Homo sapiens: one gene and its partner. The protein of the gene in region 1 interacts with the protein of each later gene in a biochemical or structural test. Each region holds a gene or a part of one and is shown on either strand. Other genes may lie near its edges.

Region 1 (7,408 bases):
AAGCAATCCTCCCACCTCAGCCTCCCAAGTAGCTGGGACTAGAGGTGTGTGCCACCAAACCCAGCTAAATTTTGTATTTTTGTAGAGACAGGGTTTCACCATGTTGCCCAGACTCGTCTCAGACTCCTGGGTTCAAGGGGTCCACTCACCCTCAGTCACCCAAAGTGCCGGGATTATAGGTGTGAGCCATCGCGCCTGGCCTGCTTCAGTATTGTTGGGTTTTAAATATTTCTGTTTCCATCAGTGATTGCCAGGGGTTGAAGGGGGGTGGAGGGGGGTGAGTACCAAGGGCCAGGGGGTCACTTGTGGGCAGTGGTGATTCCGTATCTTGATTCACCTGAGGTCAGGAGTTCGAGACCAGCCTGGCCAACATGGCGAAACCCCATCTCTACTAAAAATACAAAAATTAGCCAGGCGTGGTGGCACGCACCTGAAGTCCCAGCTACTCAGGAGGCTAAGGCAGGAGAATGGCTTGAACCTGGGAGGTGGAGGTTGTAGTGAGCCAAGATCGCCCTACTGCACTCCAGCCTGGGCAACAGAGTGAGACTCTGTCTCAAAAAAAAAAAAAACAAAAAAAGAAAGAAAAAGAAAAACCGGATGTAAAACAGTTTATTCTTTAAGTGCAGGGGTGTGTAACGCAATCCTTGCTTGGCATGACCTTAGATCCTGTTTATAATTTGGTATCTTATTGCCACAAACAGTCCATTCTGTCTGTCTTATGATCACTGTTTCAACATTAAGGCTGGTCAGCTGTTGTGTCTAAACTTCTAAGGAAGAGGGTATAAGGAGGCATGTCTGACCTCTCATCTCATTATGGCTGGGAACTCAGTGTTTAAGGTTTCTTGAAGGTCCCCTTGGCCAAGAGGGGGCCCATTCAGTCAGTTGGCGGGGCTTAGGATTTTTAGTTTACATTCTGCTCACTGGAGTAGCACTTTTAATTTCCTTCAGGAAATTTTCCTTTGAATTCACAACTTGACTAAATGTTTGGTGCAAGAAGTCTTGCTTTCAGCCTATCCTGACTTTTGACACACCTTCCTCACTGAGCTTAATCATTTCTAGCTTTTGATTTAAAGTGAGAGATGTGCGACTCTTCCTATCCCTCGAACATTTAGAGGCGTGGACTGAAATTCAATATTGTTGTGTCTTACAGGCTAGGGAGACCTGAGAAGAGTGAGAGAGAGGGGGGAACAGCCAGTCAGTGGAGCACTTGGAACATACACAATACCGATTAAGTTGGCTGGTTTACCTGAATGCTGTTTGTGGCACCCCAAAACAATTACAATAGTAACATTAAGGATCACTGATCACAGATCACCTTAATAGGTGTAATAATAATGAAAAACTTTGGGACCAGGCACGGTGGCTCACGCCTGTAATCCCAGCACTTTGGGAGGCCAGGGCAAGCATATCTCCTGAGGTCAGGAGTTCGAAACCAGCCTGGCCAACACAGTGGAACCCCATCTCTACTAAAAACGCTAAAATTAGCCAGGCATGGTGGCGCGTGCCTGTAATTCCAGCTATTTGGGTGGCTGAGGCACGAAAATCGCTTGAACCCCAGGAGGTGGAGGTTGCAGTGAGCCAAGATTGCGCCACTGCACTCCAGCCTGCATGACAGAGTGAGGCATTATTGCAAAAAAGAAAAGAAAAAAAAAAGTTTGAAATATTACAAGAATTACCAGGATGTGGTACAGAGACACGAAGTGAGCACATGCTGTTGAAAATGGTGCCAATAGACTTGCTGTAGTCAGGTAGCCACAAACCTTGAACTTGTAAAAATGCAGTATCTTCGAAGCACAATAAAGTGAAGTGCAATAAAACAAGATATGCCGGGCGGGGCACGGTGGCTCACACCTGTAATCCCAGAACTTTGGGAGGCCAAGGTGGGTGGATCACAAGGTCAGGAGTTCAAGAGCAGCCTGGCCAATATGGTGAAACCCTGTCTCTACTAAAAATACAAAAATTAACTGGGCGTGGTGGCGGGAGCCTGTAGTCCCAGCTACTCGGGAGGCTGAGACAGGAGAATCACTTGAACCCGGGAGGCGGAGCTTGCAGTGAGCTGAGATCACGCCACTGCACTCCAGCCTGGGCCACAGAGCGAGCCTCCATCTCAAAAACAAACAACAACAACAAAAAAACAAGATATACCTATATACCTCAATTTTAAGGAAACAAAAATTCTCAATTTTAATTTCTAACAGAGTACAGTTAGATATAAACAAAATCCCTCAATCCTTTTTAAGCGTACAAAGAGATCCGGAGAACAAAAACTTTGAGAACTACTGATCTAATGCATTGATTTCTTTTGTTTTGTTTCTGTAGTTGGGGCTACAGGTATGCGACACCACCCCCAGCATGAATGCAATTACTCAGTCTGGAGTCGGAGAAAGCGATTGAAAGGGAGGGAAAAATCTTGCTGGCTCTAATGCTTTATAAACTGTGCTGTCCAATACGGTAGCTGCTGGCCACTTGGGGCTATTGAGCACATGAAAAGTGGGTACTCCAAACTGAGAGGTACTTAGTACCAAAAAACAAAAAAATAATGGGCCGGGCGCGGTGGCTCACACCTGTAATCCCAACACTTTGGGAGCCCGAGGCGGATGGATCACGAGGTCAGGAGTTCAAGCAGCCTGACCAACATGGTGAAACCCCGTCTCTACTAAAAATACAAAAAAATTAGCCGGGCGTGGTGGTGTGCACCTGTAATCCCAGCTACTCAGGAGGCTGAGGCAGGATAATCGCTTGAACCTGAGAGGCGAGATCGTGCCATTGCACTGCAGCCTGGGCGGCAGAGCAAGACTCCATCTCAAAAAAAAAAGAATGTAAATTATCTCATCAATAATTTTCACATAGAAATGACATATTTTGTTTTTCTTTTCTTTGTTTTTCGGTAGCCATGGGTTCTTGCTATGTTGCCCAGGTGGCCTTGGACTCTGGGCCTGAAGCCATCCTCTCACCTGGCCTCCCAAAGTGCTGGGATTATAGGCATAAGCCACTGCACCTGCCCCAATATTTTGAACATATTGGGTCAAGGAAAAAATATGGTTAAAATTAATTTTACCTCTTGCTTTTTTTTTTTTTTTTTTTTTTTTTGATGCTGAATCTCTCTCTGTTGCCCAGGCTGGAGTGCAGTGGTGTGATCTCAGCTCACTGCAGCCTCCGCCTCCCAGGTTCTAGCGATTCTCCCGCCTCAGCCTCCCGAGTAGCTGGGATTACAGGCACGCGCCACCACACCTGGCTGATTTTTGTATTTTTTAGTAGAGACGGGGTTTCACCATATTGGCCATGCTGGTCTCGAACTCCTGACCTCAAGCAATCCGTGCCCCCCACCCCCACCCCCCGGCCTCCCAAAGTGCTGGGATTACAAGTATGAGCCATCGCACCTGACCTCTTTTTTTTTTTTTTTGAGATGGAGTCTGGTTCTGTCACCCAGGCTGGAATGCAGTGGCATGATCTTGGCTCAGTGCAACCTCCACCACCACGGTTCAAGCAATTCTCCTGCCTCAGCCTCCTGAGTAGCTGGAATTACAGGAGCCTGCCACCACGCCCGGCTAATTTTTGTATTTTTAGTAGAGATGGGGTTTCACCATGTTGGCCAAGCTGGTCTCGAACTCTTGACCTCAGGTGATCCACCAGCCTCGTTCTCCCAAAGTGCTGGGATTACAGGCGTGAGCCACGGCGTCTGGCCTACCTCCTGCTTTTCACTTTAATGTGGCTACTGGAAAATGTAAAATTACCTATGTGGCTCCTGTATATTTCTGTTGGAGAGTGCCATTCTGGAGACAGACAGACCGAACTGCCAATCTCTGTTTCACCACTTACAAGCTGCGTCAAAAAACTTACTATTTCTTCAAATTTCCTGGGTTCCCTGGGATGTAAAATGTGGGTAATGTTAGAGTTGGTGTGAATATTAAATGTAAATAATGAATGTAACATACTTAGCTCTATACCTGGCACCCAAGTAAACAATAAGTTTGTTGGCTATTAAAGACGTTGATTTCTCTACTGATATCGTCAGAGATGGGCCTCATGCTCATTAAAGTTCCTTCCTCTGCGACCTATTTCCACTCTGGCCACAATAATAACTAATTATAGCAGAGGCCTGACCCGACTTTCGGCTGTTGGCCTCCCTTCCCCACATCGAAAAATTCAAATCATGACCCAGGGTCCATCCTAGAAGTGTGCCATCTGTATTTATGAATGGAGCCTAAGCAAATCTGAAAACCAAGCAGCCCCAGGCAACTGAGCCCAGCGTAGCAACCGACGCCGGGGCCTGTTGCTAAGGGAAAAGAAAGAAAGGACGTGGTCCGTCAGCTATTGCTCTCCGGGGGCAGCTACTTCCGGTCCCCCTGGGAGCTGTCCTGCGGTCTACGTTCCCCCGAGGTGCTGGGACTGCGGCCGCAGGTTCCGCTGTCTCGGGAACCGTCGTATCCCTCGGTCCGGCGGCGGCGGCGGCGGTAGCGGAGGAGACGGTTTCAGGCCTCCGGTGCGGCTGCAATGCTGAGCTCCCGGGCCGAGGCGGCGATGACCGCGGCCGACAGGGCCATCCAGCGCTTCCTGCGGACCGGGGCGGCCGTCAGGTGAGATTTTGGGGGGCGGGGCTGCCGAAGAGGCCGGGACCAGGGTCCCCAGCTTGGGCCCGTGACGGCTTTTTCATGCCCTAGTTGGGGTCTCCAGGGCCCGCGCGGGCATTCTGGAAGGTTCTGCGTCCTTTAGGGTTGGAGGCCTGGGCCCGTAGGTGGGAGGACTGACGGGCTCCAGTCCTTCGGCAACACCAATTCTGTCTGCACTCCCCAGGTCTGTCAGTCCCTCCCCCTCCTGTCATTGTTCCCAGGACACCCGGGGCACTCCAGTCTTGTCAAGGCCCCTAATTCTGTCAGTGCCCTCAGTCCTTTCAGTGCCTCCTAGGCCTGCCAAGACCCCTCAATCCTTCTAGTATACCCCCAGTCCTTCTGGGTCCCCCAATCATATCAGTTTCTGGACTGCCAGGGTTCCCCAACCTTGGCACGGTTCTTCTAGTCCTATAAGTGCCCCGGGCCTGCGAGCCCCGCGTTTTGTTAGTACCGCCCCCTATTCCTGTTAGCCCGCCCTCTAGTCTAATATGGATCGCCACTTCTGTCTGGGTCCCTGATGTTGTTAGTGTGAGTAAAGGCCCTTGTTTTGCAAGGGTCTCTAAATTGGTCAGGGCCCCTTTAACCTGTTAAGGTTGCTTGGTCCTGTTAAAGCCCTCCGTTCTTGTTAGGACTCCTCGATTGCCTGGGTCCCCAATCCTGTCAGGGCCCCCATTTCCCTCTTATTCACCCTCCCAAGGGCTCCAGGCTTCAGAACTGAGTACCCCCTCCCCCACTGCTGACCCCAAATGACTGAGACCTGTTGCTCAGGTCGGCTTCCTCTGGAACTGGAGCAGGTTTAAAGAGCTTATTATCCCAGGGCTGAAAGTCCTCGATACTTATCCTGTCCAGTGCCCCCATTCCGTAGATAGGAAGTGTGGCCCCATAGCTGACCTCATAGCAGAGTTGGGAGGAGAAGCCAGATCTTTTCATCCGCAGGCCCCACCACTCTCCTCGTGATGTCATTTTGCAGAGGAATGGAGTTTCCAAAGTCGCCACTTGTCCCTGGGTATTTTTTCCTTATGCTGCCAAAGTCATGGACAAGTCCTCTCTCCCATCCCCTTGACACTCTTCCCTTCAGTTTCCATCTTGAACTTCGTGGTTTTAAGCACAGACCTGGGGAGACAGACAGGCATGATTCAGAGCCATGTTCCTTCACTCACTGTGACCAAGTTGGGCTCTTAGTTTCTTCTGCTATAAAAATGAAAGTGATAGTAGAACCTGCATCTGTGGGGTTGTTTTAAAAATGAGGTAAGATTGTCACAGGGCCTGGCAGAGAGTATGTACCCTTAAATATTAGTGTTTGATTAGGGGATTTTAAAGCACTGGTAAAGCACCTTAGCACTTCCATGACAGTCCTTTATAATCTTTCCAGGCACTTTTGTGAACTCACGTATCGTGTAAAAGCACAGTGATGTATTAAGAAACTTCAAGAATACCTTTCACCAGCTGGGCATGGTGGCTCACACCTGTAATCCCAGCTCTTTGGAAGGCTGAGGCAGGTGGATTTCTTGAGCTCAGGAGTTCGAGACCAGCCTGGGCAATGTAGTGAGACCCTGTCTCTACAAAAAAATTTAAAAATTACCTGGGCATGTGGTGTGCAGCTGTGGTCCCAGCTACTTGGGAGGCTGAGGCAGGAGGATCACCTGAGCCCGGAAGGTGAAGATTGTGTTGAGCTGAGATGGCACCACTGCACTCCAGCCTGGGCACTAGAGCAACTAGAGCAAGACACTGTCTCAAAAAAAAATAAAAATAAAAATAAGAAAAAAAGAAAGAATAGCTTTCATGAATGATCCTGAGATTGTAATGCTTAATTTGTAGCAGCTAACATTTATTAAGTTCTTACTATGTACTGTATGCATTCACACTTATTTAATCCTCACAACAGCCCTATGAGGTAGGTCTTATGGATTGTCCCCATTGTACAGATGAGGAAACTGAGGCTTAGAAGGTGAAGTGATGCCAAATGAAATAGCAAAGCCAGGATTGAACCAGAATAAGGTAATCCCACTTTCTTAACCAAGTTTGGTGCATATTCTGTTGACTCTGTCTTGGAAAACAAATATTTATCTGAAATTCAGCTATCAGCTATGATACTAAGAAATGCTGATTATTATAAAACAGGGTCAATATTACCACCAGTGACTCTTCACCAAGTTAATGTTTACTGAACTGAAATCAAAACAATATTCACATGATCCAAATACTGGGATAATAATGTATTACACACACACACACACAAACACGTATGTATGCATGTGTAACATATATGCAGATACACATTACATAGCTATATACACATAGATGGTTTGTCTTATTTTGTAGAAATATATAACTTTGTATAAAAACAATGTTTTAAATTGTTGGGGAAATTTCTTAATATGTAGCAAAAGCATAACCAGCGTTCAAGTCAAGCCTGAAGTTAGGAAATCTTTAATTTTATAAATATTCAGCTCTTTTATACCATTGTATGTGTGCCCCTTCCCTGTCTAATATTCTAAAAGAGAAATTCATTTCTGTATATTTTCTCCAGTATTCAGTCATTCAATAAATATTTTATATATATATACACACACACATATATATACATATATATATATATATATATATTTTTTTTTTTTTTTTTTTTGAGGCAGAGTCTCGCTCAGTCACCCAGGCTGGAGTGCAGTGGCGCAATCTGGGCTCACTGTAACCTCCGCCTCTTGGACTCAAGCCATTCTGCCTCGGCCTCCAGAGTAGCTGGGATTACAGGCACCTGCCACCACACCCAGCTAATTTTTGTATTTTTAGTAGAGACAGGG
Region 2 (4,859 bases), on another chromosome or scaffold:
TCTGTCCCATGGGCACTCATGAAAAAACAGAATGCTCCCAACTTTATTCATCTTCCAAGCCTGTAGCTCTTGGTATACTCACTGTTGCAAGTCAGAAGCTTGATTTCATCATTGATGTTTTTCTCACGTTTCACATCTCACTCATCACCAAGTCATGTTGGTGTTAATTTCTGATTAACCCTTGAATTTACCGTCTTCTCATCCTCTGTACAAAAGCCTCAAGTGAGGGTCAAATTCAACATTATCCTGATCTAGACAGCCCCCATTCTCAATCCACCCTTTTCCAAGTTGATTGCCCAAGGACTTCTAACAATAAACTCTCTTTTGCACCACAGACTTCTTTGAAAATATACATGCTGTTGACCCTCTCTGTAGAAAACCGCACACATAAAACTTACCAACAGATTTCATTGGTTCTTGGGTTCTCCCGAAGCCTATCCATGGTTTATAGATTAAGAATTGATGAGGTAGCTGGGCACAGTGGCTCACACCTACGATCACAGCACTTCGGGAGGCTGAAGCAAGCAGATCACTTGAGGTCAGGAGTTTGAGACCAGCCTGGCCAACATGGTGAAACCCTGTCTCTACTAAAAATACAAAAAGTAGCCAGCCGTGATGACAGGCACCTGTAATCCCAGCTACTCGGGAGGCTGAGGCATGAGAATTGCTTGAACCCGGGAGGCGGAGGTTGCAGTGAGCCTAGATCATGCCACTGCACTCCAACCTGGGCAGCAGAGCAAGACTCTGTCTCAAAAGGGGAAAAAAAAAATTGCTGATGTGACCCATGAAGGGAACTCATTTTCCTCGTAATTTTGGACTGCCACACATTGGTACCTTTAGTTCTCTGAAGGCCCACGTTTTTATCATTAAGACCTATTTGTTAGCTAGTAGAGCTTTATGTTCGCTGTCCATGAAACCTTCTGTAACCACAGTGACTACAAGTAGTTCTTTCTCTATTGAATTATTAGGTCCAGAATAGAAGATGTCATTGTACACTTTATTTCCCTCACACTGTGTTATGCTCTGATGTGCTATGCTTAGCTATCTGTCAGAGATTAGTAAATTATAAAACTCATGTGTACTACTTAAGTTTATATCTTATGCTAGTTTATAAGAACAATTAAAAGGACTTAGAAGATTAACTTTGGTTTCATGGTCTCTGAAGTCACTGACTGCTATTTCAGCTTGTTTACCCTTACCTAGCATTAAGACTCCATCTACTTCTGTGCAGTATATGAAAATTTTTAAACTTTCATTTAGACTGGTGGATAGGACTGACCATTACAAATTGTCGTTATCAATTTTTTTTCCTTTTTTTTTTTAAGAGCCAAGTTCTCACTGTCTCCCAGGCTGGAGTGCAGTGGCATGATTATGGCTCCCTGCAGCCTTGAACTCCTGGACTCAAGCTGCAGCCTCTCGAGTAGCTGGGTGCATGTGCTACCACACCCAATTATGAATTTCATCATTAGTTTCTTAGTAGAGTCCACATGTCCTCAGTAGTAAGTTCATCAGTGCTAAATATTTGAAGGTATTTCTACTGTTTTGTAAAAGTAACTTAAGCCTACCTGGTCTGCTATCTTTTGAGTATTTATACTTTCTACGGGCTTGTAGGTAAACATAAAAAGAGAAAAAATATCCCAATAATACAGTTTTTAACCTTTTATGATAAAGACATGCTTAGAATTGCTGTTAAGCTTTCTGAGATTTAACCACTGAAACTAAGTAAAAGACAAAGCACTTAGGTAAAGCTTCATTCAGTATCCATTCACCCAATACTGGTTTGATTCTAGGGCCTAGGAAAATAGGACTGAGCAAAGCCCTTGTCCAGATGGAACTTATGTTTTAGAGGGGAAAACAAACCATAAAAAGGTAAACAGTATAAAATCAGGAAAGGATAAATGTATATGAAGAATCAAAATGAGGACGGTGATGGGGATAAGAGGGGAAGGTTTTTGAGGAGAGCAGAGCAATGATGTAAAAGCAAGACACACAGATAGGGAAATAGCTTTCCATACTAAGGGAATGGGAAATAAAGCTGAGTTTTGCCTTGAGGACCTCCAAACATGAGAATTGCTAGAGCTCTGTGAACAAGGATGAGAGTGGAAGACAATATAAGCAAAGGCTACATCACTTAGGGCCTATAGGCCACACTGAAGTGTGACAGGAAAAACTCAGTTTGAGCAGAGGCTTGACATACTTAACATATTTAAAGGTTCTCTGGCTGTTGTGTGGACAAGAGGAGAAGCAGAGATTAGTTAAGAGGCTATTGTAGCCCAGGTGAGGGATGATGTATGATCTTCAACATGTCTAATTTTTTTGTGCCTCAATTTCATGAAATGAAAATGCGACTAATACCACCTCATAAAGTTGTGAGAATTACATGAGTCAATATATGTAAGGCCCATCATGGCACACAAATGTGTTATGTAATATCCATTTGGCAGACTGAAGAACAACAGTATGAATGGAATTCATTCACCATGAGAATTACCTGGAATTCTCTGGGCATGGTAGCTCATGCCTGTAATCCCAGCACTTTGGGTGGCCGAGGCAGGTGGATCACCTGAGATCAGGAGTTCGAGACCAGCCTGACCAACATGGAGAAACCCAGTCTCTAATAAAAATACAAAACTAGCCGGGCATGGTGGCACATTCCTGTAATCCCAGCGACTCAGGAGGCTGAGGCAGGAGAATCGCTTGAACCTGGGAAGCGGAGGTTGTGGTGAGCCGAGGTTGCGCCATTGTACTCCAGCCTGGGCAACAAGAGCAAAACTCTGTTTCAAAAAAAAAGAAAGAAAGAAAATTACCTGGAATTCAATATTGCCATCGGCTGATTTAATTTCTAATATGAAGAAAGGGGCAGTGTGATGTGCCACGGAGCATCCACAACCTGCCATTTCAGCCCAGCCAACCTTAGAAAGCCATTGAAAAGAGTTGTTTTTAATGGTGTTTTTACATCCAGCTTCCCACACCTCAAATACTTGGGGTGGAATTGTTAATCTCACATTGCAGTACAATGAAAATAGTGGAATGGAAATCAAGTTATAAAATGGAGCTAAATATTTCTTCTGCTTGCCTCTGAGTTGATAAGATACCATAAGATACTGTACATGAGGCTGGGCGCGGTGGCTCACGTCTTATTTCTTCTGCTTGCCTCTGAGTTGACAAGATACCATAAGATACTGTACATGAGGCTGGGTGCAGTGGCTCACGCCTGTAATCCCAGCACTTTGGGAGGGTGAGGTGGGCAGATCACCTGAGGTCGGGAGTTCAAGACCAGCCTGACTGACATGGAGAAACCCCCTCTTTACTAAAAATACAAAATTAGCCAGGCATGGTGGTGCATGCCTATAATTCCAACTACTCGGGAGGCTGAGGCAGGAGAATCGCTTGAACCTGGAAGGCAGAGGTTGTGGTGAGCTGAGATCGAACCATTGCACTCCAGCCTGGGCAACAAGAGCGAAAATCTGTCGCCAAAAAAAAAAAAAAAAAGATACTGTACATGGAAGCTTCTCAGGCTAAATCCATTAATATAAAAATACATTGTGGATACTGATGAGATGGCTAATTCTGTCAACTTGACTAGGCTACGGGATGCCTTGATAGCTGGTCAAACAACATTTCTAGGTACATCTGTGATGGTGTTTCTGGAAGAGACTAGCACTTGAATCAGTAGACTTGAGTAAAGAAGACTGCCTTCACCCATGTGGGTGAGCGTCATCTAATCCATTGAGGGCCTGAATAGAACAAAAAAGGGGAAGAAGGGTGAACTGCTGGGACATCCATTTCGTGCCCCCAGATGTTGGTGCTCCTGGTCCTCAGGCCTTCAGACTAGGACTTAACGTTATTGCCTCCCCTGATTCTCAAGCCCTCGGGTTTGGAACTACACTGGCTTTCCTGGGCCTTCAGCCTGCAGAAGGCAGACTGTGGGACTTCACCTCCATTTTGCAGAGCCAATTTCTCATAATCTGTACATATCCTATTGGTTCTGTATTTTTTAGAGAACAAATACAGCCTATTATGTATATATAAGACCCTGGGAATGCAAAGATGAACAAAATTAACCTTCTGCTCTCAATGAATCTTGGAAGTCTCCAGAGGCAGACAATTTCAAAACACCGTATATAGTCTTAATATGGAATTAACAATAGGGTATTGTGAATACACAAAAGTAGGAAGGACTCTGATCTCTAGAAAACAATTGTATACTGTGAATGAAAAAGACTAATTCTCCACAGTCTATACTCAATCTCTCTTACCTTTCCATAATTTTCTTCAGCAAACTTATTACCACCAAACATAGTACATGTTTATTTATTACCCATCTCTCCCAACTAGAAAATAAATGTATTACACTGGGCTGTCTTCTTTGTTGTCAGCTGTATCACAGCAACTGGTGTAATACACGGCACTGGCATATACAAGACAAACACTTGTCAGATGAATAAAAATGCAAATTCCAGGAGGTAGGGGGACACATAACTACATGGAAGTTAGAGGTGAATAGCATGCAAGGGGGCTAGGAAATAAGTATAGAGACCTATGTGAGTTGGGGAGGTGGCAAGCAGAGGCCAGATCACAAAAGCTCTTACTGCTCTTCTTTGGAGTTCGGATTTTATCGTGAGGGTAGGAAAGTGGCATCAGATACATGCTTTAAGAGATCAGTCTGGTTTTTTTCCCACCATGTGAAAACAGAAGATGCCATCTATGAATCAGAGTGGCCCCTCACCAGACAATCTTTCCATCCTTCACAATGTGAGATGTAAATTTGTTATTTAAAAAAAAAAAAACAAAACACCACTATGGTTTGGAAGATTCCTGTTTCAAAAATGGCAGGTTAAGCCCCATATTTATAGGCT

Evidence for each region.
Region 2: of the proteins of USP30 (region 1) and PAICS, one has a biochemical effect on the other in vitro, tested with the Homo sapiens proteins (one study listed by BioGRID).

What each region holds. Positions count from the first base shown.
Region 1 is NC_000012.12:109,048,185-109,055,592, forward strand, and holds the start of USP30 (ubiquitin carboxyl-terminal hydrolase 30), read left to right. Parts: upstream 1-4,391; 5' UTR 4,392-4,494; coding exon 4,495-4,577; intron 4,578-4,597; exon of another isoform or gene 4,598-5,853; coding exon of another isoform or gene 5,854-5,858; intron 5,859-6,321; exon of another isoform or gene 6,322-6,608; intron 6,609-7,408. UniProt on the Homo sapiens protein: Deubiquitinating enzyme tethered to the mitochondrial outer membrane that acts as a key inhibitor of mitophagy by counteracting the action of parkin (PRKN): hydrolyzes ubiquitin attached by parkin on target proteins, such as RHOT1/MIRO1 and TOMM20, thereby blocking parkin's ability to drive mitophagy.
Region 2 is NC_000004.12:56,460,220-56,465,078, forward strand, and holds the end of PAICS (bifunctional phosphoribosylaminoimidazole carboxylase/phosphoribosylaminoimidazole succinocarboxamide synthetase), read left to right. Parts: 3' UTR 1-4,359; downstream 4,360-4,859. UniProt on the Homo sapiens protein: Bifunctional phosphoribosylaminoimidazole carboxylase and phosphoribosylaminoimidazole succinocarboxamide synthetase catalyzing two reactions of the de novo purine biosynthetic pathway.